Regions from separate parts of the Homo sapiens genome. Here all the other regions are linked to region 3. The links come from fine-mapping of genetic effects on gene expression. A gene starts in region 3. Each other region holds a variant in brackets. All regions are shown on one strand. Distances are from middle to middle. Region 1 overlaps TMEM266 (transmembrane protein 266). Region 2 overlaps PTPN9 (protein tyrosine phosphatase non-receptor type 9). Region 3 holds the start of COMMD4 (COMM domain containing 4). Region 4 has its middle 15 kb from the start of GOLGA6C.

The links.
Region 1: its variant is fine-mapped to the expression of COMMD4 in whole blood (INTERVAL, PIP above 0.99).
Region 2: its variant is fine-mapped to the expression of COMMD4 in whole blood (INTERVAL, PIP above 0.99).
Region 4: its variant is fine-mapped to the expression of COMMD4 in whole blood (INTERVAL, PIP above 0.99).

Annotation. Positions count from the first base shown.
Region 1 is chr15:76,088,015-76,096,120 of GRCh38, reverse strand. The region is part of intron 1 of TMEM266 (transmembrane protein 266); the gene reads right to left. Among named protein-coding and RNA genes, the nearest start is that of TMEM266, 32 kb to the right of the region's middle. The variant T/CTTTTT (reference allele first, on the strand shown) is at 4,126.
Region 2 is chr15:75,541,448-75,549,553 of GRCh38, reverse strand. All of the region lies in intron 1 of PTPN9 (protein tyrosine phosphatase non-receptor type 9), which reads left to right. Among named protein-coding and RNA genes, the nearest start is that of PTPN9, 34 kb to the left of the region's middle. The variant G/A (reference allele first, on the strand shown) is at 4,525.
Region 3 is chr15:75,331,710-75,339,802 of GRCh38, reverse strand. COMMD4 (COMM domain containing 4) reads right to left here and starts at 3,740. Exons shown (of 8, transcript NM_017828.5): 1 at 3,711-3,740; 2 at 1,670-1,741; 3 at 1,383-1,448; 4 at 1,118-1,157; 5 at 699-818; 6 at 459-539; 7 at 1-101. The coding sequence starts at 3,713. RefSeq lists enhancers at 3,347-3,516, 3,857-3,906.
Region 4 is chr15:75,239,202-75,247,307 of GRCh38, reverse strand. No RefSeq gene overlaps it. Among named protein-coding and RNA genes, the nearest start is that of GOLGA6C, 15 kb to the left of the region's middle. The variant T/ATTTTT (reference allele first, on the strand shown) is at 4,478.

The sequences.
Region 1 (8,106 bases), 760 kb before region 3:
GAACTGAAGGAGATAGAGACAAGAAAAATCCTTCAAAAAATCAATGAATCCAGGAGCTGGTGTTTTGAAAAGAACAACAAAATAGATAGTCTGCTAGCCAGACTAATAAAGAAGAAAAGAAAGAATCAAATAGATGCAATAAAAAATGATGAAGGGGATATCACCACTGACCCACAGAAATGCAAACTACCACCATCAGAGAATACTATAAATACCTCTACGCAAATAAACTAGAAAATCTAGAAGAAATGGATAAATTCCTGGACACATACACCCTCCCAAGTCTAAACCAGGAAGAAGTCGAATCCCTGAATACACCAATAACAAGTTCTGAAATTGAGGCAGTAATTAATAGCCTACCAACCAAGAAAAGCCCAGGACCAGATGGATTCACAGCCGAATTCTACCAGAGGTACAAGGAGGAGCTGGTACCATTCCTTCTGAAACTATTCCGATCAATAGAAAAAGAGGGAATCCTCCCTAACTCATTTTATGAGGCCAGCATCATCCTGATACCAAAACCTGGCAGAGACACAATAAAAAAAGAAAATTTCAGGCCAATATCCCTGATGACAATCGATGCGAAAATCCTCAATAAAATACTGGCAAACTGAATCCAGCAGCACATCAAAAAGCTTATCTACCACGATCAAGTCGGCTTCATCCCTGGGATGCAAGGCTGGTTCAACATATGCAAATCAATACACATAATCCATCACATAAATGGAGCCAATGACAAAAACAACATGATTATCTCAATAGATGCAGAAAAGGCCTTTGACAAAATTCAACAGCCCTTCATGCTAAAAACTCTGAATAAACTAGGTATTGATGGAATGTATCTCAAAATAATAAGAGCTATTTATGACAAACCCACAGCCAATATAATACCAAATGGGCAAAAACTGGAAGCATTCCCTTTGAAAACTGGCACAAGACAAGGATGCCCTCTCTCACCACTCCTATTCAACATAGTATTGGAAGTTCTGGTCAGGGCAATCAGGCAAGAGAAAGAAATAAAGGGTATTCAAATAGGAAGAGAGGAAGTCAAATTGTCTCTGTTTGCAGATGACATGACTGTATAGTTAGAAAACCCTGTTGTCTTGGCCCAAAAACTCCTTAAGCTGATAAGCAACTTCAGCAAAGTCTCAGGATACAAAATCAGTGTGCAAAAATCACAAGCATTTCTATACACCAATAACAGACAAACACAGCCAAGTCATGAGTGAACTCCCAATCACAATTGCTAAAAGAGAATAAAATACCTAGGAATACAACTTACAAGGGATGTGAAGGACCTCTTCAAGGAGAACTACAAACCACTGCTCAAGGAAATAAGAGAGGACAAAAACAAATGGAAAAACATTCCATGCTCATGGATAGGAAGAATTAATATTGTAAAAATGGCTATACTGCTGAAAGTAATTTATAGATTCAATGCTATCCCCATCAAGCTATCACTAACTTCCCTCACAGAACTGGAAAAAACTACATTAAAAATCATATGGAACCAAAAAAGAGCCTGCATAGCCAGGACAATCCTGGGCAAGAAGAACAAAGCTGGAGGCATCATGCCACCTGACTTCAAACTATACTACAAGGCTACAGTAACAAAAACGGCATGGTACTGGCACCAAAACAGATACATAGACCAATGTGACAGAACAGCAACCTCAGAAGTAACACCACACATCTACAACCATCTGATCTTTGACAAAGCTGACACAAACAAGCAATGGGTAAAAGATTCCCTATTTAATCAATGGTGTTGGGAAAACTGGCTAGCCATCTGCAGAAAACTGAAACTGGACCCCTTCCTTACACCTTATAGAAAAATCAACTCAACATGGATCAAAGACTTAAACATAAGACCTAGGACTATAAAAATCCTAGAAGAAAACCTGGGCAATACCATTTAGGACATAGGCAATGGCAAAGGCTTCATGTCTAAAACACCAAACGCAATGGCAACAAAAGCCAAAATTGACAAATGGGATCAAATTAAACTAAAGAGCTTCTGCACAGCAAAAGAAACTATCATCAGAGTGAACAGGCAACCTACAGAATGGGAGAAAATTTTTGCAATCTATGCATCTGACAAAGGGCTAACATACAGAACCCAGAAAGAACTTAAACAAATTTACAAGAAAAAAACAAGCAACCCCATCAAAAAGTGGGCAAAGGATATGAACAGACCCTTTTCAAAAGAAGACATTTATGCAGCCAACACACATATGAAAAAATGCTCATCATCACTGGTCATCAGAGAAATGCAAATCAAAACCACAATAAGATACCATCTCCCACCAGTTAAAATGGCGATCATTAAAAAGCCAGGAAACAACAGATGCTGGAGAGGATGTGGAGAAACAGGAATGCTTTTTACACTGTTGGTGGGAGTGTAAATTAGTTCAACCATTGTGGAAGACAGTGTGGTGATTCCTCAAGGATCTAGAACTAGAAATACCATTTGACCCAGCAATCCCATTACTGGGTATATACCCAAAGGATTATAAATCATGCTACTATAAAGACACATGCACACGTATGTTTATTGCAGCACTATTCACAATAGCAAAGACTTGGAACCAACCCAAATGTCCATCAATAACATATACACCATGGAATACTATGCAGCCATAAAAAAGAATGAGTTCATGTCCTTTGCAGGGACATGGATGAAGCTGGAAACCATCATTCTCAGCAAACTATCACAAGAACAGAAAATCAAACACCGCATGTTCTCACTCATAAGTGGGAGTTGAACAATGAGAACACATGGACATAGGGAGGGGAACATCACACACCAGGGCCTGTTGGGGGGTGGGGGGCTAGAGGGAGGGATAACATTAGGAGAAATACTTAATGTAGGTGACAGGTTGATGGGTGCAGCAAATTAACATGGCACGTGTATACCTATGTAATTAAAACTGCACATTCTGCACATGTATCCCAGAACTTAAAGTATAATAATAAAAAAAAGAATAAATAAATAAATAAATAAAAATAGCACCTGGCTGGGCACGGTGGTTTACGCCTGTAATCCCAGCACTTTAGGAGGCCGAGGCGGGTGGATCACGAGGTCAGGAGTTCGAGACCAGCCTGACCAATATGGTGAAACCCCGTCTCTACTAAAAATACAAAAATTAGTTGGGTGTGGTGGTGCACGCCTGTAATCCCAGCTACTCAGGAGACTGAGGCAGGAGAATCACTTGAACCTGGGAGGCAGAGGTTGCAGTGAGTCGAGAGTGTGCCACTGCACTCCAGCCTGGGTGATAGAGCGAGACTCAGTCTCAAAAAAAAAAAAAAAAAAAAAGCACCTAACTCATAGCATTGTCATGAATTCAATAACCCATAAAAGGCTTAGAATACTGACTAGAACATAGTATAGATTCAGTGACTATTAGCTATATTATTTATTTATTTATTTAGAGATGGAGTCTTGCTCTGTTGCCCAGGCTGAAGTGCAGTGGCACAGTCTCAGCTCACTGTAATTTCCGCTTCCCGGGTTCAAGCAATTCTCCTGCCTCAGCCTCCAGAGTAGCTGGGATTACAGGCACCTACCACCAAGCCCGGCTAATTTTTGTATTTTTAGTAGATACGGGGTTTCGCCATGTTGGCCAGGCTGGTCTCAAACTCCTGACCTCAGCTGATCCGCCCGCCTCGGCCTCCCAAAGTGCTGTGATTACAGGCATGAGCCACCACGCCCAGCTATTGGATTATTAATATCCTTCTCAACATGCCAACTTTGATTAGCTGTACCAATATTTTGTTACATGTTGAGCTTTAAATAATTTGTGTTCTGTTCTGAAACTATACAAAGTTTAGCATGCTTTGGGAAATTGCTCTTAAACTGAATCTAAAACATGAAGACCAATAAGCAGCATTTATACTATAATTACAGTATATTCACTGCAGAATCAGGTAGTGTGGTTAAATCAGGACAGAAAGGGATATAGTACTATTTCATTATATCCATGTTGCTGGATAGAGAAAGTTCAAGTATACAGATTTCTTTTTTTCTTATACTCTATCATATCGCTCAACATGATACTATATTTTAGCCTGCTTCATATTTGATCCATGACTTTTGCCATAGGTTTTTCTTTTCTTTTCTTTTCTTTT[T/CTTTTT]CTTTTGAGACAGGGTCTTGCTCTGTTGCCAGGCTGTAGTGCAGTGGCATAATCAGTGCTCACTGCAGTCTTGACCTCCTGGGTTCAAGCTATCCTCCTGCCTCAGCCACCATGGTAGTTGGGATCATAGGGATGTGCCACCACACCAGGATAATTTTTGTATTTTTTGTTTCAAAATAGGGTTTCACTATGTTGCCCAGGCTGGTCTTGAACTCCTGGGCTCAAGTGATCCTCCCGCCTCAGTTTCCCAAAGTGCTGGGATTACAGGTGTGAGCCACTGCGCCCAGCCTCCATAGGTTTTTCTTTATCCTTCTGAGGTTTCTCATTGCCTACTTCTTATAGAAAGTAGAAACAGGAAGCAGAAATAAATGTTTTCTCCATTTTATGAAAGATCATCAAGATCCCCAAATTTTCTGTTAATTGATAATTTTTGTTTTGTTTTGTTTGAGATGGGGTTTCACTCTGTCATCCAGGCTGGAGAGCAGTGGTGCAATTATGTCTCACTGCAGCCTCGAACTCCTGGGCTCCAGATATCCTCCCACCTCAGCCTCCCAAAGTGCTGGGATTACAAGCATGGGCCACCACTCCCGGCCCTTAAACTGTCAATTTAAGACACATTACTCTGTGGGTCTGCTGCATAACTGTCATCCTGGCCTGGCTCCATTTTTTTTCTGAGGTCCCATGTCTTCCTCTTTGTTGAGTTCCTTTTATCTTTGCTGGAGTACACCCTCAAGTAATTTTTTTCAGTAAAATTATATAGAAAAATCTTCTGAGTCTCTACATGTCTGAAAGCAATTTGGTCTGCATCATGCCTTCTCCATTTTTTTCCTCTCACTTCAACACTATGGCTTTCACTACACTCCAATAAAAATGATCTTGATATGTTAGCCAGGATCTCCTAATTACCAAACCCAGTGGACACTTTTTTCCCTTTTATTTTTAGTTGACATGTAATTGTACATATGTATAGGATACACAGTGATATTTTGATACATGTATACAATGTGTGATGATTAAACCAGGGTAATTAGCATATCCATCACCTAAACATATATCATTTCTTTGTGTTGTGAATATTAAAATACTGTCTTATAGCTTTTGGAAAATATACAATAGATTACTGTTAACCATATTTACCCCCCAGTACTATAGAATACTATAACTTATTCCATCCATCTAGCTGTAATTTTGTATCTGTTAGACAACCTCTCCCTGTCCTACCCTCTTCCTCACCCTTCCCAGCTTCTAATAGTCACAATTCTAATCTCTCTACTTCTATGAGCTCAGATTGTTTTAGCTCCCAAATCCCGTGGACACTTTTAACCCTACCCATTTATTGTAGAATTTGACACTGTTGATAACCCTCTGATTCTTAAAACTCTCAGTTCCCTTGGTTCTTGGGACACTGTGCATCCTTTGCCCTTTTCCTCTCTTTTTGTTTCCTTTGAGGTTCTGCATTCTTTTCCCAACTTTTTTCTTTTTCTCTTTTTTTTTTTTTTTTTTTGAGACAGAGTCTTTCTCTGTCACCCAGCCTGGAGTGCAGTGGTGTGATCTTGGCTCACGGCAACCTCCACCTCCCAAGTTCAAGTGATCCTCCTGCCTCAGCCTCTTGAGCAGCTGGGATTGCAGGTGTGCACCACCATGCCTGGCTAATTTTTGTATTTTTAGTAGAGCCAAGGTTTCGTCATGTTGGCCAGGCTGGTCTTGAACTCCTGGCCTCAAGCAATCCACCCACCTCAGCCTCCCAAAGTGCTGGGACTATAGGAGTGAGCCATCATGCCCGGCTCTCTTCCCAATCTTTCAATACTGATATTCTCTGATGTCCCATCTCTACCCACTGACGGTCTTTCTCATAAATGGGCTTTCTGAAATAGCTCATCTAGCACTATGATTTCAGCCACCAACTATCTGATGACATAAAGCACTAAATGTCACACACGAATTTCAAAATTAGTCTATCCAAATCTTAACTGATTATCTTACCTCCATCCAAAGGCTGTTTCCATGTTCGTGGTTTTTATTTTGTCTTGTGAAGTTACCATCCACCCAAATCTTCCCAGTTAAGAGCCATGGGAGTCATCCTTAATCTTTCCCTCTTTCACAGCCCCCAACCAGTTGCCAAATCCTCTCAAATCTCTCAGAAATGTCTCTGGAGTTTCATCATCTTCTCTAGTCTCACTGCTACCCTAATTCAGATCCTCATTATTTCTCACTTGGATTACTGAAACAACTCCCAACTTGCCCCTCTGCCCTCGCCTGTGCCCTTGCCTCTCCTGTCGGTACATCCTTCATTCAATTAGTGATCATCCCAAAACAAAAAACGCACGACCATATCTTTGCCCTATTTAAGACCCTAGCTAGCTCCCTCCTGCTCACAGAATGTTTAAACTTATTAGTATCATACACAACCTTTTGCAATTTATCTCTCCCCATTTCCATTTCCAGCCTTCCCTCTCACCCTTCAACCCCACGAATTCTACAATTCAGCTATAAGAAACTTCTGGGCTGGGCGCGGTGGCTCAAGCCTGTAATCCCAGCACTTTGGGAGGCTGAGGCGGGCAGATCACAAGGTCAGGAGATCGAGACCATCCTGGCTAACACGGTGAAACCCCGTCTCTACTAAAAATACAAAAAAATTAGCCGGGCGTGGTGGCGGGCGCCTGTAGATCCAGCTACTTGAAAGGCTGAGGCAGGAGAATGGCATGAACCCGGAGCGGCAGTTGCAGTGAGCCGAGATTACGCCACTGCACTCCAGCCTGGGCAACAGAGCGAGACTCCATCTCTAAATAAATAAATAAATAAATGAAACTTCTGAAGATCACGGCCCCTGCTCACACCTGTAATACTTCCTCTTGAAGACTCTATGCTTTTCTTTTTCCTCTTTTTTTTTTTTTTTTTTTTTGAGACAGAGTCTTGCTCTGTTGCCCAGGCTGGAGTGCAGTGGCACGATTTCGGCTCACTGCAACCTCTGTCTCCTAGGTTCAAGCGATTCTCATGCCTCAGCTACCTGAATAGCTGGAGTAACAGGCATGTGCCACCATGCCTGGCTACTTTTTGTATTTTTAGTAGAGACGGGGTTTCACCATGTTGGCCAGGCTGCTCTTGAACTCCTGACTGCAAGTGATTCACCCACCTTGGCCTCCCAAAGTGCTGGGATTACAGGCGTGAACCACCATGCCCCGCCTTTTTTCCCTTTTTTGAGATGGAGTCTCACTCTGTAGCCCAGGCTGGAGTGCAGTGGCGTGATCTCAGCTCACTGCAAGCTCCGCCTCCCGGGTTCATGCCATTCTCCTGCCTCAGCCTCCCGAGTAGCTGGGACTACAGGCGCCTGCCACCACGCCTGGCTAATTTTTTGTATTTTTTAGTAGAGATGGGGTTTCACTGTGTTAGCCAGGATGGTCTCGATCTCCTAACCTCATGATCCACCCACCCTGGCCTCCCAAAGTGCTGGGATTACAGGTGTGAGCCACTGGGCCCAACCACTTTATTTTCTTTTTTTCTTTTCAATAGAGACAAGGTCTCCCTCTGTTGCCCAGGTTGGTCTCGAACTCCTGGGCTCAAGGGATCCTCCTGCCTTGGCCTCTAAAGTGCTAGGATTGTAGGTGTGAGCCACTATGCCTGGCTGATGCTTTTCTATTTACTGTTTCTTTCCTAACTTCTTCAGGCCCAGTTGCTCCCTGTACACTCCCAGAGTACCCTGCTAATAACTTTTCATCACACTGTCTTATTGCCATCTATTTTCATCTTCCTCTATGGCTATGCCATCAACCTCTTAAAAGCCAGGCTTATGTTTTACATATTGGTATCATCAGCACCTAGCATAGGTCTAACCACTAGAAGACACTTCAGTGGATGTTGAGGAAGAAAAGAGGACAGGACTTTGGGGAAAGATTATGTTCAGGAGGCAGGAAGAAGAGCCATGCTGAGGGTGCTTTGAGGGTAACAAGGACCCTGTAGTCACAAAAGCCTAGGAGAAAATTT
Region 2 (8,106 bases), 210 kb before region 3:
CTTTTCGATTGTGCTAGTCTCTTCAGATTGTTCCCTTTTTAAATTTGAAATTAGCCAGATGTGGTGGCTTACACCTGTAATCCCAGCATTTTGGGAGGCTGAGGTAGGCAGATCGCTTGAACTGAGGAGTTAAGAGACCAGCTTGGGCAACATGGTGAAACCTCGTCTCTACAAAAAATACAGAAATTAGCCAAGTGTGGTGGTCCACCCCTGTAGTCCCAACTACTCAGGAGGCTGAGGCAGGAGGATCACTTGCACCTGGGAGGTCAAGACTGCAGTGAGCCATGTCCTCACCACTGTAATCCAGCCTGAGTTACAGAGTGAGACCTTGTCTCAAAGAAAAAAAAATGAAATTGGAATAATTTATAATTAATTGCATAATTCATATTATCTCACTTTTAAGGATTTCTTTAAAAAACACCAGCATCTGGCTGGGTGTGGTGGCTCACACCTGTTAATCCCAGCACTTTGGGAGGCTGAGATGGGAGGATTGCTTGAGCCCAGGAGTTTGAAATTACAGTGGACTATGATTGCCCCACTGCACTCCAGCCTTGGTTACAGAGGGAGACCCTGTTTCTATTTTTCTTTTTTTGAAATTTTTGGCTGGGTGTGGTGGCTCATGCCTATAATCCCAGTACTTTGGGAGGCTGAGGCGGGCGGATCACAAGGTCAGGAGATCGAGACCATTCTGGCTAACACGGTGAAACCCCGTCTCTATTAAAAATACAAAAAATTAGCCGGGCGTGGTGGCGGGCGCCTGTAGTCCCAGCTACTCGGGAGGCTGAGGCAGGAGAATGGCGTGAACCCTGGTGGCAGAGCTTGCAGTGAGCCAAGATCGCGCCCCTGCACTCCAGCCTGGGTGACAGAGCAAGACTCTGTCTCAAAAAAAAAAAAAAAAAAATTTCCCCTTGTCTCTAAAGGAAAAAACAAAAACAAAAATTAAAACAAAAAAGCAATACCACCATCTGTCTTCTCTTTAGAAGTTCATATTATGATATTAGTCTGGGCGTGGTGGTTCATGCCTGTAATCCCAGCACTTTGGGAGGCTGAGGTGAGCAGATCACGAAATCAGGAGTTCAAGACCAACCTGGCCAACATGGCAAAACCCTATCTCTATTAAAAGTGCAAAAATTAGCTGGGCATGGTGGTGGGCGCCTGTAATCCCAGCTACTTGGGAGGCTGAGGCAGGAGAATAGCTTGAACCTGGGAGGTGGAGGTTGCAGTGAGCCGAGATCGTCCCATTGCACTCTAGCCTGGGTGACAAGAGTGAGATTCCATCTCAAAAAAAAAAAAAGAAGAAGTTTATATTATGATATTTTAATTTAGTTAAATCTGCATTTTGAAAGCACTGTAATACAGTGGTTATAATGTGGATTCTCTAGAGTCAGAAAACCTGTGTTCTGATTCAGGCTCTACCACTTTTCTTGTTCTGGGACTTTGGACAAGTTACCTAACAGTTCGAAATCTGTTTTCTCAACTGTAATATAGGGATAATAATAGTATCAATCTTTAAGGGCTATTGAGAGAATTTGATAATCTATCTAAATCTTAGTCTCTGACTTGTGATTAGAACTCTGTACCCAGTAGGGGCCAGGCATGGTGGCTTACACCTGTAATCCCAGCACTTTGGGAGGCTGAGGCAAGTGGATCACTTGAGATCAGGAGTTCGACAATAGCCTGGCTAATATGGTGAAACCCCATCTCTGCTAAAAATACAAAAATTAGCCGGGTGTGGTGGCGCATGCCTGTAATCCCAGCTACTCAGGAGGCTGAGGCAGGAGAATTGCTTGAACCCAGGAGGCCGAGGTTGCAGTGAGCCAAGATTGAGTCACTGCACTCCAGCCTGGGTGACAGAGCGAGGCTTCGTCTCAAAAAAAAAAAAAAAGAACCCTATATCCAGTAAATATTAGCTATTGTTAAGGTCTGGTGTTACTTAATGCAGTGTAGTTAAGTTTTACACAATGCCTTCAAGGATAGCCAGTTATTTGATCATGCGAGACAGCATAGGCAGGTTTCCTTTTTTGGATGAGAAAATGTATGGCACAGAGGTTTTTTTTGTCTTGTTTTGTTTTTTGTTTTGTTTTGTCTGCCACCACGCCTGGCTAATTTATGTATTTTTAGTAGAGACGGGGTTTCACCATGTTGGCCAGGGTGGTCTTGAACTCTTGACCTCATGATCCACCTGCCTTGGCCTCCCAAAGTGCTGGGATTACCGGTGTGAGCCACTGTGCCTGGCCTTTTTTTTTTTTTTTTTTTTTTGAGACAGAGTCTTGCTCTGTCGGCCAAGCTGAAGTGCAGTGGTGCTATCTCAGCTCACTGCAACCTCTGCCTCCCGTGTTCAAGCGATTCTCCTGCCTCAGCCTCCCTAGTAGCTAGGACTACAGGTGCACACCACCACATCTGGTAATGTTTTTGTATTTTTAGTAGAGACAAAGTTTCACCATTTGGCCAGCTGGTTTCAAACTCCTGACCTCAGGTGATCCACCCACCCAGGCCTCCCAAAGTGCTGGGATTACAGGCATGAGCCACCGTGCCTGGCCTGGCACAGGTGGTTTTTGACTTGCCTGAGTGAGAGTTCTGCTGTGGCAGAACTGGGTCTTTAATGTAGGGTGACTAGTGCTCTGTCTAGAACTTGCATTCTTAACTGCCTCCTGTTGACAACACTTAGTTGTTGGCTATCACACTGTTAAGGATTATGTGGTTACTTTCTTCTTGAAACCCTTTCAATTTTTCATCTAGTATTTCTCCTTAGTCTGGATAATGTCCAGTGTAGTCGTTCTCTTATCATTTTAGGATGAAACTGTCCACAAGAATTTATCAGGCTTTCTGTGCCCACCCACCCTTTTTAAGTTAAATGTGATATCCAGCAAATGTCAAGGTTAATGAAGTTCTCTATTTCTTTTTTTTTTTTGAGACAGAGTCTTGCTCTGTCGCCCAGGCTAGAGTGCAGTGGCATGATCTCGGCTCACTGCAACTTCTGCCTCCCAGGTTGAAGCGATTCTCCTGCCTCAGCCTCCTGAGTAGCTGGGAGTACAGGCATGTGCCACCATGCCTGGCTTATTTTTTATGCTTTTAGTAGAGATGGGGTTTCACCATGTTAGCCAGGCTGGTCTTGAACTCCTGACCTCGTGATCTGCCCGCCTCGGCCTCCCAAAGTACTGGGATTACAGGCGTGAGGCACTGCGCCTGGCTGAAGTTCCCTATTTCTATACACCATTATCACCCTGACAATTTTGGGATCTGAGTCAAGAAAACAATCTATATTTTCTGTTATTGAGAAGTTTGAAGGGGTCTCCCAGTAGCTGTATCATGTCCATTACTCTCTTTTATCCTCATTCAGAAATTTTCTACTGTGGTTTGTGGATTTCTCCAGGGAATATCATTTTGGGATGTGCTGTCATTCCACTTCCCCTCTTGAGATCTGAATTACTTACTTTTGTTTGTAAAAGACAAAAATAAATAAGTAAAAATAATAAAGATTTGAATTCCATTTGCCCATTAGTTGGTGTATTGTGTTCACAGTTCTGCCAGACTCAGATTTTTATGGGTAGAGACCATGTCTTACTTATTTTACAAAATCCATAAATTTACTTTAATCTATTTTTTCAGACAGAATCTTGCTCTGTCACCCAGGCTGGAGTGCAGTGATGTGATCTTGGCTCACTGCATCCTCCCATCCCTGGCTCAAGCAATTCTCGTGCCTCAGCTTCCCAAGTAGCTGGGACTACAGGCGTGCGCCACCACACCCAGCTAATTTTTGTATTTTTAGTAGAGACGGGGTTTCGCCATGTTGGCCAGGCTGTTGTCATGATGTCGAACTCCTGATCTCAAGTGATTCCACCTGCCTCCGCCTCCCAAAGTGCTGGGATTACAGGCATGAGCCACCGCGCCTGGCCATAAATTTATTTTAAATTATTTTATTTTGTATATCCTATTATAGATGTCTGACGTTAAGATATTGGCAGGGAATTAAGATATCTAATTTCCAGATAGTTTCTTCTGTGATTTAATAGTCACCTCTTTCATTGCTTTTCTTCTCATGTTATTTTCCTGATGTTCTTTCCCAGTTTTATTTAGGAATTTTTTGCTGTCCTCTTACTTTATTTTATTTTGTTTTGTTTTGTTTTACTTTATTTTAAATCTTTTCTAGAGATGGGGGGGTCTCACTATGTTGCCCAGGCTGGTCTTGAACTCCTGGGGTCAAGCATTCTACTCATCTCAGCCTCCCATAGTGTTGGGATTACAAGTGTGAACCACCATGCTCGGCCCTCTCCTGTATTTTAAATTTTAAGTTCCCATAATCAGATTGGCAAGTGTTCAAATGTGTTCTTCCTACTCTCTGAACCACACTCTTTTAGCAGGCCAAGAGCCCATCACCATTGACACATTTACTTATCAGAATGGTGTCACTATGCTTGGTGTTGAGTATGCAGTTGTGGCACAGAACCCTTGGCCCCTGCATCTTCCCAAGCTTACAGTTTAGTGGGAGCAGATAGACAATAACATGCTTTATAATACTGTTTG[G/A]TCAGTGCTTGGCTGGAAAGCAGTAGAAATTTATAGGATGAAGTAGGATTTAGGCTGACCTGAAGGAGAAATAGGAATAAGCCAGGTTTGGGAGTAGAGGAAGGGTAAGAATGTTTTAGCATGATCTGGAAAGCCAACTTCAATTTCCTCACAGCCATTCACATTCCTCCTTTCTTTCCTAAAGTCTAAGCTATCAGTTGGAAGAAGAGAAAAAAAAAATGTTACCAAAGGCCCCTCCCACTCTCTATGTTTACCAAGCTCTTTAAATTTTTTTTTCCCCCAGAAAGACTTTACAGGTTTCTTCTGGTTGTGTGGTTCACTCACTCTTTAGCGGCATGAGTGGCAGTTGGCAAGCTGTCTACAGGTTCTTGTGGAGAGTGTGACCAGCTACCTCTGTTACCTCCCTCTGGGAACCTAGATGATGTTGCTCTTGTTGGTGGATGAGGAGCTTCTTGTTTTTGTGTGTGTGTGTTTTGTTTGTTTGTTGTTGTTTTGCTTTTTGAGACAGGTTCTGCTCTGTCACCCAGGCTGGAACACAGTGGCATCATCACAGCTCACTGTAGACTTGGACTCCCAGGCTCAAGTGATCCTCCCCCTTCAGCCTCCTGCTAGGACCACAGCAGTACACTGCCACACCCGGCTAATTTATTTTCATATGTTGTGGAGATTGGATAACCCTGTGTTGTCCAGGCTGGTTTCAAATTCCTGGGCTCAAACGATCCTCCTGCCTTGGCCTCCAAAGTGTTGGGATTATGGGTGTGAGCCCCCACGCCTGGCCAGGAGCTGCTTGTTTACTCGGCAGGTTTCGTTTTTTTCCGTTTCTCTTCTGTGTTATATTCTGCCTCTCAACCTCCTAACATGAATTTTCTCCTATGACAATTTAGAATTGTTTACTTCCTTGTTTTCCTTGTTTACCTATTTCCTCTGTTGTCTCTGGGAATTCTTCATCCTCTTTGATAACTTTGGCCTGGCAAGTGTTTTTTAAACCTGAGAGGAGAGATGCCAGCTTGTGTTTAGTAAATATGCTATTGGCAAATGCCTCCAGCAGGAAAGTGAGAGTGGCACACTCCTCGTTGAAGCATCCCCATCTAAGGCTAGCAGTTCGTGAAACAGCTGTCATCCTTTACCCCTGTGTAGAGCTCCCTAACTCATTTTTTTGGCCCTGAAATGAAGATTACCAACAAACTTATTATTGTTTGGTGGCATAGTTTCAAAAATATTATGTTCAAAAATTCCTGTTATGTATATTTTAGTTAAAGGCTATATAAAACTAATATGTTTTATTGTTATTTTTTTGAGTGGATAATATAGTCATACGATTTAAACTTAAAAAGATACAGAAAGGAATATGGAAAATATTAATCTTCTCACCATGTCTCCCAGCTACCTAGTTCTCCTCTGAGACAGCTGATGCTACCAGTTTCTTATTTATTCTTCCAGAGTAATTTTGTGCATAGATCAACAAACAAATGACATATATATTACCCAATAAGATGAATGATATGTGTCTTGTATGTCTCATGCCCATTTAGTGAAGTGGAAAGACTATAAGGATTTGAAAAGACTTGGATTCAGTGCTCAAAACCTCAGCTCTGCCATTTATTGGTTGAGTAACCTTGGACAGTTTGCTTCGGCTCTGTGAGCCTTTGATTTCTTTATGCGGTTAATAATACCTAGCTTGTCAGTGTTGAGTATGATGTAGTATGGTTCCTTCTCTGGTATATCTTAAATGCTTCACACATGGTTACTACTACTGTGATTTCTTGCAGGACTTTGCTCTTTGGTCTGTGTGAACTGGGAGGGGCAAAATCTTGCTCTAGAAAAATGAAGGGCAGCCATAAAAAATGATGAGTTCATGTCCTTTGTAGGGACATGGATGAAACTGGAAAACATCATTCTCAGCAAAGTATTGCAAGGACAAAAAACGAAACACTGCATGTTCTCACTCATAGGTGGGAATTGAACAGTGAGAACACATGGACACAGGAAGGGGAACATTACACACCGGGGACTGTCGTGGGGTGGGGGGAGGGGGGAGGGATAGCATTAGGAGATATACCTAATGCTAAATGACGAGTTAATGGGTGCAGCACATCAACATGGCACATGTATACATATGTAACAAACCTGCACATTGTGCACATGTACCCGAAAACTTAAAAGTATAATTAAAAAAAAAAAGCCAAAAAAAAAATGAAGGGATTGAATTGCCTTCTTTAATATGTGACTAATGCTGTCTTATGTGTACAAAGGAACCATGAGCCAAAGGAGACAGAAATAGCATTTGAAAAGGAATAGAACATTTTCTGCTCATCAGGTATTGGAGACAAACTATTCCTGATCTGGGGCTGTCACACTTGGCTGGTGGAGTGCTGATAAACCTTAGCCCTTCACTTCTGCTGGTAGGAAGTCATTAACACTGAGGAGCTTTTCGTGTTTAACAGTTCAGTTAACTCTGGCCCCTCAGTGTTGCCTGAAGCTTTGGACTCAGATGGGAAACTTCACTTGGTCAACCCTGGTTTCCTGTTGATCCGTTCCCAGTGGGATATTAATCCTTTAATAGCAGTTAGCTTTTTTTCTTCTTGGGTTCTTGCATAATGCTTGATGTGGTAGATGGAAGAGTCCCATGGTTTCAGAACCATCCTATTTGGTTTCATTAGGCAGATGGGTGTTAGGCCTTTCTTCATGGTTATTTGGCCTTACCCTTTCTGATGAGATTTGTAGGGCTTTGAGTTTGAAGTGCACATAGTCCCTTAACGGATGAACAAGAAAGACTTTCTATCTTGCAACATGTGGATATCAGAATAAAGAGACCTGATAATATGGGTTATCTTTTAAAGGAAGAAAATGTTTGTAAACTCATTGTGAAAGATTCTGTGCCACATGTAGTTTTAAGCAGTTGGTTCTGAGTTCCCAATATACATTTATCCAGATTGCTGGGAGTAGACCTATTAATGATTTATATTTTATTTTATTTTATTTTATTTTATTTTTGAGATGGCATCTTGCTCTGTCACCAGGCTGGAGTGCAGTGGCACCATCTCGGCTCACTGCAACCTCTGCCTCCTAGGTTCAGGCGATTCTTCTGCCTCAGCCTCTGAGTAGCTGGGACTACAGGTGCACGCCACCACTCCCAGCTAATTTTTGTATTTTTAGCAGAGACGGGGTTTCACCATGTTCCAGGATGGTCTCAATCTCAGGAGGCTGAGGCAGGAGAACTGCTTGAACCTGGGAGGTGGAGGTTGCAGTGAGCTGAGATCGCACTACTGCACTCCAACCTAGGTGACAGAGTAAGACTCCGTCTCAAAAACAAAAAATAATAAAGGCCAGGTGCAGTGGCTCACGCCTGTAATCCCAGCACTTTGAGAGGCTGAGGCAGGCGGATCAGGAGGTCAGGAGATCAAGACCATCCTGGCTAACACGGTGAAATCCCGTCTCTACTAAAAATACAAAAAATTAGCCAGGCATGGTGGCGCGCACCTGTAGTTACAGCTACTGGGGAGGCTGAGGCAGGAGAATGGTGTGAACCTGGGAGGCGGAGCTTGCAGTGAGCCGAGATCATGCCACTGCACTCCAGCCTGG
Region 3 (8,093 bases):
CACCTCCAGCCGCAGGTGCACCATGGGCTCTTCCACGGATTGCAGCAGGCTGGAGCTCAGGGTGTAGTCCACCCGCCAGCCCACACCTGCCAACCTATTCACTGTGAGATGGGGTGGGTGGCTCTCAGGATCAAAGCAGGCAAGCCAAGTAGACCTCAGCCGACACCCTGGCTCAGCTCTCAACCATTCAAGGCTATGTGGCCTCTAAGAAGCTCCCATCCTGCTGACCCAGGCTCAGAACAGGGCAGGTGCCCGATAATCAGTTCTGATCACCCACAGCAGACCTCAGTGACAAGAAACCTTGTGGGGAGTCAGGAGACCCAGGGCCAGGTCCCAGCTCTACGGCTGCTAGTAACCATGTGACCGTGGTTAAGTCGTCTCCCTGGACTCTCCATGCACTTTGTGTGCTGCGTGCACCTTCTAGAATGAGCCCGGACCCTGGCTGGCCTCATACTTACTGCGTAGGCTGCAGACCCGCAAGTGCTTCTGCAAGGGGCTTTGCTTCTCCTCATAACAGCGGCACAGGCTGGCCGCGTGCTCTGGGGGTAGAATGGAGTAGCTCTGGAGGTAGCATGTCGGGGCCTGGCTTGGGCTCCTGGCCCAGACAGGGCAGGTACACCTCAGGGTCACAGGGCCTGTCCCCTTCTCTAGCAGCCCTTGGCCCACAGGCTGCCCAGCTGCCCACCCACAACCCGTACCTTTGGGCAGCCCCAGCTGCTGCAGTTCACTGGACAAGGATTCGCCATCGACACTGTGCTTGGCCGCACTGGAGAGGATGAAACTCAGCACTGCCACTGTGGCCTTCACATCGCCTGACTCTGAGGGACCCGTGGGTGGGGCAGGGGGTGTCACTGTGGGTCCAGCCACCTCCCTGTTGCCCTATTAACTTTAGCTCAAAGCCCCCAGGCCTCCTGGAGCCACAGGCACTGCTACTGCTCCACCAGGAGCTGGCAGAGGACAGGAAGGTGGGACTGTCGGTCTTTCTTTCCCTCATGCTCCTCCACTAGGGAAGGTAAGTTAAGGATGCTGCTGGGAGGGGTGGGGGGCCCCTCTGTACCAGGCACCAGGCCAAGTTCCCAGGGTTGCCTGGGGCCTATAGACTCAGCGGGATACTCACCAAACTTGGCGTCAGCCGTGAGCTTCAGGATCTTCTCATACTATGGGGAAAGGAGACCTTCAGGGGGTGCCAGGCCCCTGCTCACCAGCCCCTCACCCCCAGCCTGGATCCTGCGATAAGGAACAGACAGGCTGGAAAGAAGGAAGGGAGGTGCCCAGAGAGGTTGAGAGGCTGGCTCACCCGTCTCCCTGGGCCTAGTGCAGAGTTTCAGGGCAGTGGTGGTCATAAGGTCATGGGACAATGGGGTGCTGGATCTTGTACTCACATCAATCCCCTGTCCCAGCAGCTCCTTTAGTACCTGGCTGCAGAGCAGCCGCAACTTCACAGAGGACTGGAAGGGAAGTCCTTACATCAGCCAGGCTGGCAAACCTCACCCCTCCTTCCTGGGGACTGGCTCAGAGCAGGCCAGCCACTGATCAAGGTCACAAAGCATGGTAGCACAGGCTGAGAGCACTGAGGCCCTAGCCCCAGAGAAACCTCACCATCCTCTACACCCACAATCCCCACCCCCAACACCCCTCCTCCACCCAGACTAGACCCTGTGCACTCAACCATCTTGGCCAGCGTGCTGATTTCTGCCAGGACCCAGTCGGGACAGTCCAGATCACCACAGAACCGGAACCTCTGCAAGGGAGGGAGGCAGGTAATCAGGCTGGAGGGAGGCCTGAGGTGTGGCCAGGATCCGTGTGTCTCCCACACTGCTGCCCACCAGGGACCCCTGGTCCCCGACATAGATGGATACCCTCTGGCCTCTTGTTCTCCCCTATCACCAGGCTGTTGAGTAAACTCTCTCCCTGACCCACCCTGCCACCAAACCCTGCTCTGAGGTCTACTCCAGGCATTCATCTGCTCAGCAAACATCAATTAAGCACCTTCTCTGTGCTAGCTCCCACTCTAAGTGCTGGGGGTACAGCATGGGATAAAACAAAGTCCTGGGCCTCACAGAGACGAGTGAACTCTCTCCCCTCTTCCCCATACCCACACAACTCCAGCCACTCCAGCTTCCCTGCTGCTGCTGGGGCACACCAGCCTTGCTCCCGCCTCCATGCCTGCTGCACTCTCTGTGTGGCTTGCTATCCTTTTTTTTTTTTTTTTGAGACAGTTTCACTCTTGTTCCCCAGGCTGGAGTGCAATGGCGCGACCTCGGCTCACTGCAACCTCCGCTTCCCAGGTTCAAGTGATTCTCCTGCCTCAGCCTCCCAAGTAGCTGGGATTACAGGCATGTGCCACCACACTCGGCTAATTTTGTATTTTTAGTAGAGACAGAGTTTCACTATGTTAGCCAGGCTGGTCTTGAACTCCTGACCTCAAGTGATCCGTCCCCCTCAGCCTCCCAAAGTGCTGGGATTACAGGCGTGAGCCACGGCGCCTGGCCAGTGGCTTGCTATCCTTTAAGTGACACATCAGACCAGCCCTTCTTTTTTTAAAAAATAAAAAAATAAGACAGAGTCTCCCTCTGTTGCCCAGGCTGGAGTGCCATGGCCATGCTGGTCTCGAACTCCTGACCTCAGGTGATCCACCCTCTTCACTCTCCCAAAGTGCTAGGATTACAGGCATGAGCCACCGCACCCAGCCAGAACAGCCTTTCTTGATTATACTTCTTAAAATAGCCCCTCACACAAGGAAATTATGGAGGCCAGTGGATACGTTCATTATCTTGATTGTGGTGATCCAAGAGCCAGGAAGATTTGTTCTCTACTTGTCCAGCCTCATCTTTCCCTAACCTGCAGATGATACTCTCCCAGCTATGGGAAATGCATCCATTCCTGGGGAGCCATACTCTCTCTAACCTGAAGTCTCTGCACATGCTGTTCCCTGTCTGAAGACACACGTCTCCCACCCTTGCCTCCCTACCCCTGGTACACAAACTGTACTTCAGCCAGCCAGCTCCTGCCATCCATCCGCCTTTAAGTTTGATGGCATCCTTAGGAAGCCCCCTTAGCACTACACACAAGGCGCAGTTAGGTCTCTGCCCCTGGAGCCTTAGCTATGACTCCAATTCAAGCCTCCGATTTCCCCTTCCCTTGGCAGCTCAAGTCCTCCCAGTGCCTAGCACACTTCATGGTATAGACCAGGCGCTTAGAACGTACGGATGGATGGATTGGATGGATGGATGGATAAGTCTCAACCCCAAAACTACTACTTTCTGGCTCTGGAAAGAGCGGAGGGGCTTCCTAACAGTGTGGAAGAGTGAGCCTGATTCTAAGCACCTTCTTGTACAAGCCCCACGGCAGGGCTGGGGAAGGGGGTATCCTTGGGAGGTCCTCTTGGGGATGGGGAAGACCTGAAAGGACTCCCAGCTCCAGACAAGCCCTAGTTCCTGCCCCGGGAGGCAGGGGCCCTTCCTTCCGCCAGGGAAGCACCGGGACTCTAAGCCGGCCGGCCTGCTCTGTCTTACCCGCCCCGTACCCCCGCCCCCGTCTCGGGAGCGGGAGAGTGGTGGACTTTTCCCTACCAGACTCACAGCCCTCACGCCCGCACACACTGTGTTTGCGGAGAGGCCAGTACAACCTCCCCCAGTTTCCGGAGCCACTTGGCGCCCCCTCATTCCCGCTCCAGCAGCCCAAGCCTCGCTTCGCCCCTAGTGCCTCACCATCGCGCCAAGAAGCCAGGGCCCGGGAATTTCTTTTTCCGGTCCCGCAGGGTCAGCTGAGTCGACGATCACGTGACTTGGACTAACTGCCTCTGGGAGGGCGGGGCCTGCTCGAGTGAGGCCGGGAGCGGACCGCAGCCCGCTGGAGGTGCAGGGGGCGAAATGCTGGCGTCTCCTCCTCCGTCTCCCAGAATCCTTCCCTGGAAAAAACTGGCGCCAACCGCCAGTTTAACTGAGGACCGAATTAAGACATTAGGAAAGACAGTGGAAGTTATTTCATTTGTTTAACTTAAGGGGGTAGGATCCCGGGAGCCAGGGTGTTTCAGGTCATTGACACGTTTTCCACTGTTAAGCGAATAGCATTATTCACAGCTGCGGGCTGTGGCAAAAGACATTTTAAAAACTATTGACGTCTACTACACATACAGAAAATTGTACCTATTATAAAGCTTAATAAGTTTTCATCAACTGTACACCTCACATAACCAGCACCCAGGTAAGGAAATAAACCAGATAACTTCTTCAAGTGCATGGGTATTTTATTTCATTTTGATGAATCATCTAGGTGCCTAGCAAAAAGGGCTGTCATAATTACTTGCTCAGGAAAACTCCCTACAGCTTCAACATCAATAGATGCTTATCTTAATTTTTGCCAGTCTGATGGGGAAGAAAAATCGGTTGCTTAGGTTGCAGTGGTAGTCTGATTACTGGTAGCTCTGAGCTAATGGGTAGTCTAGAACAACTAAGTTTCCGACATTGACTTGAAGAGGCAAAAACAAAAAGACAAAACAACAAGAAAAATACATTTGAGAATAGACTAATAACCAGAGACAAAATTGAATACAGTCGTCCTTTGGTAACCTCAGGATGTTGGTTCCAGGACCCCAGAGATACCAAAATTCACAGATACTCAAGTCCCTGATATAATATGGCATAGTATTTGCAAATAACCTGTGCACATCCTTCCGTATACTTTAAATCATCTCTAGATTACTATAATACCTAATACAACGTAAATGCTTTGTAAATAGCTGTTATAAAGTTTTTTAATTTTTTTTTTTGAGACGGAGTCTTGCTCTGTTGCCCAGGCTGGAGTGCAGTGGCGCGATCTCCACTCGCTGCCAGCTCTGCCACCCGGGTTCACGCCATTCTCCTGCCTCAGCCTCCCGAGTAGCTGGGACTACAGGCGCCCGCCACTGCACCCGACCTGTGTTTTTTTATTGTTTTACTTTTTCCAAATATTTTCGATGCACAGTTGGTTAAATCCAAGGATCCAGAACCTCAGGATACAGAGGGCTGACTGTAGTTTGAGCTCTCTCCTCAATTCCATGCCTATCCCATGCAACAGGTGCAGCTGGTTTTATTGTTGCAGGCTTTCAGGTTTTTAAAAGACAGAGCCCATGACAATTAAACTGCACTATAAAATAGAAATGTAAAGTGTCCCCAATTCATGGTAAAATTGAGCTCATTTCTGAAGAGTTCTTTTACAAATCATAACCACTAGCCTGTTGAAAACAACAGTACGTTAAGTTACTAGACTATCCTAAACCATGTCAAAAAAATTTTTTAAGAATGTTAAGACCTTTAATCATAGCACTTTGGTAGGCCAAGGCCGGTGGATCGCTTGAGCCCAGGAGTTCTAGACCAGCTTGTGCAACATAGGGAGACCCCAGTCTCTACAAAAAATTACCCGCTTGTCCTGGTGCACACGTGTTGTCCCAGCTACCTAAGAGGCTGAGGTCAGAGGATCTCTTGAGCCTGGGAGGTGGAGGCTGCAGTGAACCATGATGGCACCACTGTACTCCATCCATCCTGAGCAACAGAAGGAGACCATCTCAGAAAAATAAAATAAAATAAAAATAAATAAATAAATAAATAAATAAATAAATAAAGGCTGGGCACGGTGGCTCATGCCTGTAATCCTAGCACTTTGGGAGGCCGAGGCAGGCAGATCACCTGAGGTCAGGAGTTCGAGAGCGGTGGCCTGGCTAACATGGCAAAACCTGTCTCTACTGAAAAAAAACAAAAAAAATTAGCAGGGTGTGGTAGTGGGTGCCTGTAATCCCAGCCAGTCAGGAGGCTGAGGCATGAGAATCGCTTGAACGCGGGAGGTGGAGGCTGCAGTGAGCCGAGATTGCACCGCTGCATTTCAGTCAGCTTGGGCAACAGTGTGAGACTCCGTCTCAAAAAAAAAAAAAAAAAAAAGATGATTTGACTATTTAGAGCCGTGGTTCTCACACATTAGAGTGCATCATCATCACCTGCAGGGCTTGTGAAACCGGCTGCTGGGCCTCACACCAGAGTTTCTAACTCAATAGGACTGAGGTGGGGCCTGAGCATTGCGTGTCTATATTCCCAGGTGACATTTGAGACCATGCTTTGAAAACCACTAGTGTAGGGAAATATACTACAGAATATGTTATGAATATTCTTGAGAATATGTATATATGTTAACTTAGGGTTTCTGTCCAGTGGAAAAGATAACACCCAAAGATGGCAGTTTTATTTCCCAATATGATTTTCTTTTTTTTTTTTGAAATGGAGTCTCGCTCTGTCACCCAGGCTGGAGTGCAGTGGCGCCATCTTGGCTCACTGCAACCTCCACCTCCTGGGTTCACGCCATTCTCCTGCCTTAGCCTCCCGAGCAGCTGGGACCACAGGCGCCCGCCACCACGCCGGGCTAATTTTTTTATATTTTTAGTAGAGACGGGGTTTCACCGTGTTGGCCAGGATGGTCTCAATCTCCTGACCTCGTGATCCGCCCGCCTCGGCCTCCCAAAGTGCTGGGATTACAGGCGTGAGCCACTGCGCTCGGCCCCCCTTTTTTTTTTGAGACGGAATTTAATTCTGCCGCCCAGGCTGGAGTGCAGTGGCACAATCTCAGCTCACTACAACCTCCGCCTCCAGGGTTCAAGCGATTCTCTTGCCTCAGCCTCCTGAGTAGCTGGGACTACAGGTGACCACCACTGCACCTGGCTAATTTTGTATTTTTAGTAGAGACAGGGTTTCAACATGTTGGCCAGGCTGGTCTTGAACTCCTGACCTCAGGTCATCCGCCTGCCTTGACCTCCCAAAGTGCTGGGATTACAGGTGTGAGCCACCATGCCTGACCTCCCTATAGGATATTAACAAGTTTTGTCTCTATCTCAGAATACATTTCAGAATGCCCTTCCTGGAGCATTACAGACACTGTCTCTCAAAAAGCTCCTTGAACTTGCTTCACCATGTTGCTAACTCCCTTGTGAATTAAAGAAAATATCTTATACATATTCCTTCATTATTTGTATGAAAGTCATGCTTTTAACATTGTAAAAATTATTCTTCAGGCTGGGTGCGGTGGCTCATGCCTGTAATCTCAGCACTTCGGAAGGCCAAAGTGGCGGGATCACGTGAGGCCAGAAGTTTGACACCAGCCTGGCCAACATGGTGAAACTCCGTCTCTACTAAAAAAAAAAATCAAAATTAGCTAGGGGGTGCACACACCTGTAGTTCCAGCTACTTAGGAAGCTGAGGCACAAGAATTGCTTGAACCTAGGAGATGGAGGTTGCAGTTAGCTGAGGTCGTGCCACTGCACTCCAGCCAGAGCCAGACCGAGACTCTATCTCAAAGAAAAAAAAAGAAAGAAAATTATACTTCGATACAGTATGCTAATATAAAGGATATAATCTGGTTTGGCTGTGTGTCCCCATCCAGATCTCACCTTGAATTGCAATAATCCCCACGTGTCAAGGGTGGGACCAGGTGGAGATAATTGAATCATGGGGGCGGTTTCTCCCATGCTGTTCTCGTGATGGTGAATGAGTTATCACGAGATCTGATGGTTTTATAACAGGCTTTCTCCTTTGATTCGCTCTCCTTCTCTCCTGCTGCCCTGGGAAGAGGTATCTTCTGCCATAATTGTAAGTTTCCTGAGGCCTCCCCAGCCATGCAGAACTGTGAGTCAACTTAAACATCTTTTCTTTATAAACTACTCAGTCTTGGGTATTTCTTCATAGCGGAGTGAGAATGGACTAATACAGTGTACTAATAACAGCCCAGACAGTAGTATACAGGTACTACTATACTTTGATGCTAGAGGTATTCCCATTAAGGTCAGGAGCAGTATGCGCTATCATTACCATGATCTAACATTGTTCCAGAGGGTTTTAGGTCAGCAGTTCTCAACTGGAGGTGATTTTGCCGCCCTGGGGATATTTGACAGTATCTGAAATCACTTTGGCTGTCACACTGAGGAGTGCTGCTGGCATGTGGCAGGCGGAGGCTGGGGATGCTGCTAAACATCCTGCGAGGCGCAAACAGCTCCAGAACAGAGAACTGTCCAGCCCTAAACATCAACAGTGCTGCTGTGGAGAAAGCCTGGTCTAGACAAATAAAACATGGGA
Region 4 (8,106 bases), 93 kb after region 3:
TTAAATTATAATTTGTGAAAATGCAGGGTCTGCCCCCCCAACCCCGAAATCTATTTTGGAAATAACTGTATTTGTGTGTGTATATATTATGTTATTGTCAGGTTGTAAGCTTTACTAGCAGAGAGCAATTTTTAAAGCTTTAAAAGAACACTGAGCTAGATCTAGCTTCTGGCTCTGTGTGTTTATTGACTAGTGGTGTGCCTTGAGAAACCAGAACTCTTCTGAATTTCAGTTTTGTCTCTGTGTAAAATGAAGAAGGTTGAAATAAAAAATTCTCAGGTTTCCTTCCAGGCTCTGGTCTTCTCCATGTGATTCTGATAGTTACCTTGTCTGCAGAAAGCCTTTAGGGTACTGAGAAGCCCAGGGTTCTGAAAGGGAGATCCACGTGCCATCACCATTGATAGTTGTTTGGTGCAAAACATGGTTTGCTTGCCTCTATTGGTGTGTTGCTTTCAAGTATGGAATTTTTTTTAATCACACAATAATATTAGTGGAGGTCAGAATTTCAGGAACTTCATATACAATTGGTGCCATTATAGCAACACTTTTTTTGTTTTGTTTTGTTTTTGAGACAGCGTCTCACTGTGTTGCCCAGGCTGGAGTGCAGCAGTATGCATGAATGCCATCAGTTTGTAGCTAACACAACAGCTCCCTGGAGGTCAAGGCATCCTGGCTGTCACTCTAGCCTTCCTACCAATTAAGTTAATTACATCCACCTTGTGGATGATGGTGAAGGGCCACCACCTGGCATCCGCTGTTCTCGCCTTCCACCGTTCCCACTGACACCACGAAGCCTGGTCTCATGGCAGCATCTCCTCTTGTCGATCCTGGCCTACCAAGGATAGTGCCACTGAGTCCCTCAAAGATTCAGGTGCCCTTCTCACTAGTGCCTTCCTTGCTTGCCTAGAGAGGGGAGTTCCTGTGAGCCCTCCAAGGGCACATAGTCAAGTGGTGGATTCCGAATCTCCTGGCATATAATGAACCATTCCAACATTCCTACCTCCCTGTACTTTCTGGCTTCTTTGACGCTTTGCAAATGCAATTCTATAATCTCCTCCTAATTCACTGCAGCAACTGTTCCGTCCACATTTCAAGGAGCCACTCCAGCACTGTGTTGGAGCCCCAGGTGTCTTTGCCAAGCCATTAAATCTTGAGAGTGCCCCCAGGTTAGTATATTCTCATGTATACAGCCTTTAGTCTCCCCCTGGTCCAACACCCTTATGTCCACTTCTTCACCTCCTCTCCTAGATTCTGCCAGTAGGCACTTGGCAGCTCCTGCATTTTTGGCAAAAAAAAAAAAAAAAAAATCATTCTCCCAGAGCAGATTGTGCCTGTGACCTTGGGCCATGATGAGAAATGACCATAGCCTGGTGTCAATGTGGGGCAGCAATGACGACACACCTCATCCTGCTGTAAGGCCTTGTTGGAGGCTCTTTGCCTAGTCTCCAGGCAAGGGGCAGCTGCCCTTCTCTTAGCAAGGAAAGGGGGCTACTTCCTTTAGACCAGAGCATTTAGTGGAAACTGGAGGTTCAAAGTTCTCAGATGTATCCACTTAAGTTTCTCCATATCAGATATCAGGATCCCTTTTCTTTTCATTTTGTTTCATTTCGTTTTGTTTCATTTCTTTTCTTTTCTTTATTTTGAGATGGGATCTCACTCTGTCACCCAGGCTGGAGTGCAGTGGCATGTTCTCAACTGACTGCAACCTCCACCTCCCAGGCTCAAGCAATCCTTCCCACCTCAGCCTCTTGAATAGCTGGGACCACAGGTGCGCAACACCATGCCTGGCTAATTTTTTGTATTTTTGGTAAAGATGGGGTTTTGCCATGTTGCCCAGTCTGGTCTCAAACTCCTGAACTCAAGAGGTCCACCCACCCTGGCCTCCTGAAGTGTTGGGTTACAAGTGTGAGCCACTGTGCCCAGCCCTTTCTTTGTCTTCTTTTTTTTTTGTTTGTTTGTTTTTTTTTTTTTTGACATGAGGTCTTGCTCTGTTACCCCGGCTGGAGTGGAGTGGTGTGATCATGGCTTGCTGCAGCCTCAACCTCCTGGGCTCAAGCAATCCTCCCACCTCAGCCTCCTGAGTAGCTGGAACCACAGGCATGTGCCACCACACCTAGCTAATTTTAAATATTTTGTGGACAGGGTCTACCTATGTTGCCCAGGCCGGTCTCCAGCGCCAGGTCTCAAGCATGCAGCCGTGCTGCTGCTGATGATCCAGGAACCAGATTTGGAGAACTTTGTTCTAGCGCTACTGCATCAGCAATGCCTGCCCTTCCACCTGTACCATATCCCAATCCACAGTAGGTGAGTTTCCTAGTGATGGTATTGCTATAGCCCACCAGCACATCACTACCCCACTTACCACCAACAATGGATCCTGTTGCCACCTGATTAGTGAGTTCCAGGATCCTGTCCTAAAAGTCTACTCTCTAGGGCTACTTTTTAAAATTTTTAAAAAATTTTTATTTTATTTTTATTATTATTTTTGAGATGGAGTCTCGCTCTGTCACCCAGGCTGGAGTACAGTGGCATGATCTCAGCTCACTGCAACCTCCACCTCCCAGGTTCAAGTGATTCTCCTGCCTCAGCCTCCCGAGTAGCTGGGACTACAGCCACATGCCACCATGGCTGGCTAATTTTTGTATTTTTAGTAGAGATAGGGTTTCACCATATTGGTCAGGCTGGTCTCAAACTCCTGACATCAGGTGATTCACCCACCTCAGCCTCCCAAAGTGCTGGGATTACAGGCATGAGCCACCACACCTAGCCCAAATATCTTTATTTTGTCTTCTTATCTGACAGATATTTTCACTAAGAATGGAACTTGAGGCTGGCAGTTATTTTCTTTTGGTACAGTGAAGGTGTCATTCCATGGTCTTCTGGTTCCTGAGGTTTCTGTTGACTGACAGCCTAATTGTTGCTCCTTTGAAGGCAATCTGAATTTTTTCTCAGATACTCTTTTTTGGTAGGGGACCAAAAAAAGGGGTCATGCACTACCAAAGTGCTGGATTACAGGGTCTCACTTTGTCACCCAGGCTGAAGTGCAGTGGTGCAATCTCAGCTCACTGCAGCCCAGACCTCCTGGTCTCAAGCAATCCTTCGACCTCAGCACTTCAAGTAGCTGGGACTCCAGGCATACACCACCACACTTGACTAATTTTTTCTATTTTTTGTAGAGACAGGGTTTCACCATGTTGCCTAGGCCAGCCTTTAACTCCTGAGCTCAAGCAAACCACCCACCTCAGCCTCTCAAAGTGCTGGCATTACAGGCATGAGCCAACATGACTGGCTCGGATACTTTTAAGATTAAAGAAAGTTTTTGCCTTTGGCTTTCTGCAATTTTACCATAACGTGTCTAGGTGTACTATTATTTTTATTTGTCCTGCTTGGGGTTCATGAGGCTTCTTAAATCTGTGAACTATTGTTTTTCATAATTTAAAAAGTATTCTCTGTCATTATTTTTTTAAAATATTGCTTCTGCCTCATTATCTCTTTCTATCCCTTTATTTATTTATTTTGAGACAGGGTCTTGCTCTGTTGCCCAGGCTGAAGTGCTCACTGCAGCCTAGAGCTCCCAGGCCCAAGAGATGCTCCCAGATCAGCCTCTCTAGTAGCTGGGACCACGGGCGTGCACCACCACACCTGGCTAATTTTCGTATTTTTTGTAGAGTCGGGGTTACACCATGTTGCCCAGGCTAGTATTGAACTCCTGGGCTCAGGCGATCTGCCTGCTTTGGCCTCCCAAAGTGCTGGGATTCTGTGAGCCACTGCGCCTGGCCCCTCTTTCCTTTTTTTCTGGGATGCTGATTAAAGGTATATTTGGCCTAGTCAAATATGTGGTGGTGTGCACCTGTAGTCCCAGCTACTTGAAGGGCTAAGGTGGAAGCATTGCTTGAGCCCAGGAGATCCAGGCTGCAGTGAGCTGAGATCGCACCACTACACTCCAGCCTGGGTGACAAAGTGAGACCCTGTAATCCAGCACTCTGGGAGTGTATGATCCCTTTTTTGTCCCCCCGCAACCCCAGAAGTATCTGAGAAAAAATTCAGGTTGCCTTCAAAGGAGCAATAATTAGGCTGACAGTCAACTTCTCAACAGAAACCTCAGGAACCAGAAGACCATGGAATGACACCTTCACCGTACCAAAAGAAAATAACTGCCAGCCTCAAGTTCCATTCTTAGCGAAAATATCTGTCAGATAAAAAGGCAAAATAAAGATATTTGGGCCAGGTGTGATGGCTCACGCCTGTTATCTTAGCACTATTTTTTTTTTTAAATGACAAAATATTTTTAAATTATGAAAATATATCTCTAGAGGATCCCTAGTGTATCCTCTGTATCACTTACTTTCTCTTCTGTGTGTTTTATTTTTTTTGTCCCTTCATGTTTCATTCTGAATATTTTCTTCTGAATTACTAGGTTGGTGAAAAAGTAATTGCAGTTTTTGCCATTTTATTTTATTTTATTTTATTTTATTTT[T/ATTTTT]TTGAGATGGAGTTTCACTCTGTCGCCCAGGCTGGAGTGCGGTGGCACAATCTCAGCTCACTGCAACCTCCACCTCCTGGGTTCGAGCAATTCTCCTGCCTCAGCTTCCTGAGTAGCTGTGATTACAGGCTTGTGCCACCACTCCTGGCTAATTTTTGTATTTTTAGTAGAGATGGGGTTTCACCATGTTGGCCAGGCTGGTCTTGAACTCCTGACCTCAGGTGATCTGCCCACCTCTGTCTCCCAAAGTGCTGGGATTACAGGCATGAGCCACCGCGCCTGGCCAGCCATTACTTTCAATATCTTCCAGTTCATTAATTCTCTCTCAACTGTGTCTAATTGGCTCTGGAAACCATGAATGGAATTATTAATTTTAGTTATTGTATTTTGTCTTTCTTTCTTTTTCTAAGAGAGAGCCTTCTTCTACCACCCAGGATGGAGTGTAGTGGTGCGATCATAGCTCAATGTAACCTCAAACTTCTGGGCTTAGGTGATTCTCCCGCCTCACCCTCCTGAGTAGCCAGACCTATAGGCACAGACCACCAGCTGGTCTCAAATTCCTGGGCCTCAAGCAGTAACCCTGCCTCGGCCTCCCAAAGTATTGGGATTATAGGCATGAGCCACTGAGCCCCAAGTTAATGCTATTGTACTTTTCAATTTAGAATTTACTTTTTAAATACCTGTGGTGCTATTTTTTTTGTAGTTTTCTAAACTCTTGCATCTTATATTTTACTTCCTTGAACATATTAAGTATAGTTATTTTGTAGCCTGTGTCTGATTCCAATATCTGGAATCTCCGAGCATGTTTCTATCGTTGCTTCTTTCTGATAGTTCTTGGTTCATGTTGTGTTGTGTCCTACTGAGTCTAGCTACCTTAGTTGTGTGCCAAACATTTTTTAAAAATCAGTTTGTAATGCTTTGAGGCTTACGATAATGTTGTCTTCCTCCAGAGACAATTCTGTTTTCCCATTCCACATACCTGAATACACTAGCAATCCAAAAATTTTAAATTCAATTTTGGGGATTGAGGCCGGGTGCGGTGGCTCACACCTGTAATCTCAGCACTTTGGGAGGCCAAGGCGGGTGGATCACCTGAGGTCAGGAGTTCGAGACCAGCCTGGCCAATATGGTGAAACCCCATCTCTACTAAAAATACAAAAAAATTAGATGGGCATGGTGGCAGGTGACTGTAATCCCAGCTACTTGGGAGGCTGAGGCAGGAGAATCACTTGAACTTGGGAGGTGGAGGTTGCAGTGAGCTGAGATTGTGTCACTACACTCCAGCCTGGGCAATAGAGTGAGACTGTCTCAAAAATAATAATAATAAAATAAACATAAAAAACTGGGGGAATTGCGACTCAAAGCTGGACTGCAGTCTCTGCGAGGTTCAGTTTACTTTCAGAATACCCTAACTCTCAAGGTACAGCCTTTCATTGTCCCCACCTTATGGTCTGTGGGTTTATGAGAGCTACACACAATACCCTGCCCCAGGCTTTGGCAGTCCCTGGACTCAAACTTTTGTCCCCATTGCACCTAGACGCTGTTCAACATGTACTGCCCAGCTTCTCAGCTGCCTTTTTAGAGGTGGGGAACAACCGCATGTGAAAAGTAGCTCCGAGTACTGAGTTACCTCTCTGGATTGCTGTCTCTTCCTGTGTCTTAGTCTAGAAATTCTTCACTATTGTGTTAACTCTTTGATGCCTTCAAACAGATTTTGGGGTTTTTTTTGTAGCCAGTTTTTATTAAAGGTAAAAATTGCACAGCTTTTCCCATTTTTTTCCTTGGTTAAGTCTATTCATACTGCCTGCTCCTTGAGTCAGAAGCAAAAGCATGGAGGTAGGAATGAGCCTGGGAAGAATGAGGGGTACCCTCATCTAGAGTGAAAGGTGTTCACTCCAGACATGCAGAACGGTAAAGAAAATTATGAAAGGCCAAGAAGGCTTGGAAGGGTAGGCTGACTGGAAGGGAATGCCTGTCCACTGACTGCCCTCCGCCTCCACTGAGTGAGTCCTACTTACGTTGGCTGAGTTGAGTGCTGCCAAGGTGGGGCAGGGGTGCGTGTCAGGCAAGACTTCTGCCCTGCGTGGATGTATAACTCAGGCGAGGACAGGGAAGAACAGAAAGCCCCAAATAATAGTGGCTCAAATGAGAGAGAAGTTTATTTCTCTCTCACACCAACACAAGTCTGAAGGTGGCAGTTCACAATTGGTAAGGTGACTTAACAAGGATGTCTAGTGCACTTACAGCCTCATGACACTTTATCCTATTGGCTAGAACTGCGTCACACAGGCACACCGACCTACAAGGGAGGCTGGGGAATATAGTCTTTATTCTGGAGCACCATGTGCCCAGTTAAAAAGCAGGAACACTGTTACTAATTAAGGATGTGTTAAAAGATAAACCTGGCCAGGCACAGTGGCTCATGCCTATAATCCCAGCACTTTGGGAGGCTGAGGCAGGCAGATCGCTTTGAGGTCAGGAGTTGAGACCAGCCTGGCCAACATGGCGAAACCCCGCCTCTACTGAAAATATAAAAATTAGCTGGGCGTGGTGGGACATGCATGTAATCTCAGCTACTTGGGAGGCTGAGACAGGAGAATCCCTTGAACCTGGGAGGTGGAGGTTGCAGTGAGCCAAGATCGTGCCATTGCGTTCCAGCCTGGGGGACAAGAGCGAAATTCCGTCTCAAAAGAAAGAAAGAAAGAGAGAGAGAGAGAGAGAGAGAGAGAGAGAGAGAGAGAGAGGGAGGGGGGGGGAGGGAGGGAGGGAGGGAGAGAGAGAGGGAGGGAGGGAGGGAGGGAGGGGGGGAGAGAGAGAGAGAGAGAGAGAGAGAGAGAGAGAGAGAGGGAGAGAGAGAGACCTAAGCACTTAGAATTTTAGGAGTTGGAGCAGACAGTGATTCAAGAATCAGGCAGTGCCAGACAGCGAGTGGTTTGGAGCTCGAGGGGAAAGCTTGTATAAGGTGCACACAAAAGCAAGGCAAAGAAAACATTTGATTGGTTAAAGTGGAGCAGTGGCCTTAATGTCCTTAGAAGTCAGTTGGTGGTTTCTGATTGGTGAAGTCCCTAGTTAGTGATTAGTGGGTGATTTCTGATTGGTGAAGTCCCTAGTTAGAGGTTAGTTGGTGGTTTCTGATTGGTAAAATCCCTATAGGACAGTTGGTGTTTTCTGATTGGTGAAGTCCCTAGTGAGAGGTTAGTTGGTAGTTTCTGATTGGTGAAGTCCCTAGTTAGAGGTTAGTTGGTGGTTTCTGATTGGTGAAGTCCCTAGATAGAGGTTAGTTGGCAGTTTCTGATTTTGTAAAATTTTGTTTTCTAGGATATGGCTGTTCATGATGAGTGGGGTTTCAGTTTGCTTACAAAAGAACCTAGGGTATGGCCAGGCATGGTGGCTCATACCTGTAATCCTAGCATTTTGGAAAGCTGAGGCAGGAGGATCACTTGAGGCCAGGAGTTCAAGACCAGCCTGGGCAACAGAGCGAGACCCTGTTTCAATTTTTTTTAATAATAAAAAAAAGAACTCAGAGTACTATAGCCACCTCAGTCATGCTCCCAATTAATTATTTTAATAAGAGGATTACTTGGGGACAACTAGTGATCTCTGCTAGTCCCTCTCCTCTCCTCCCTTGT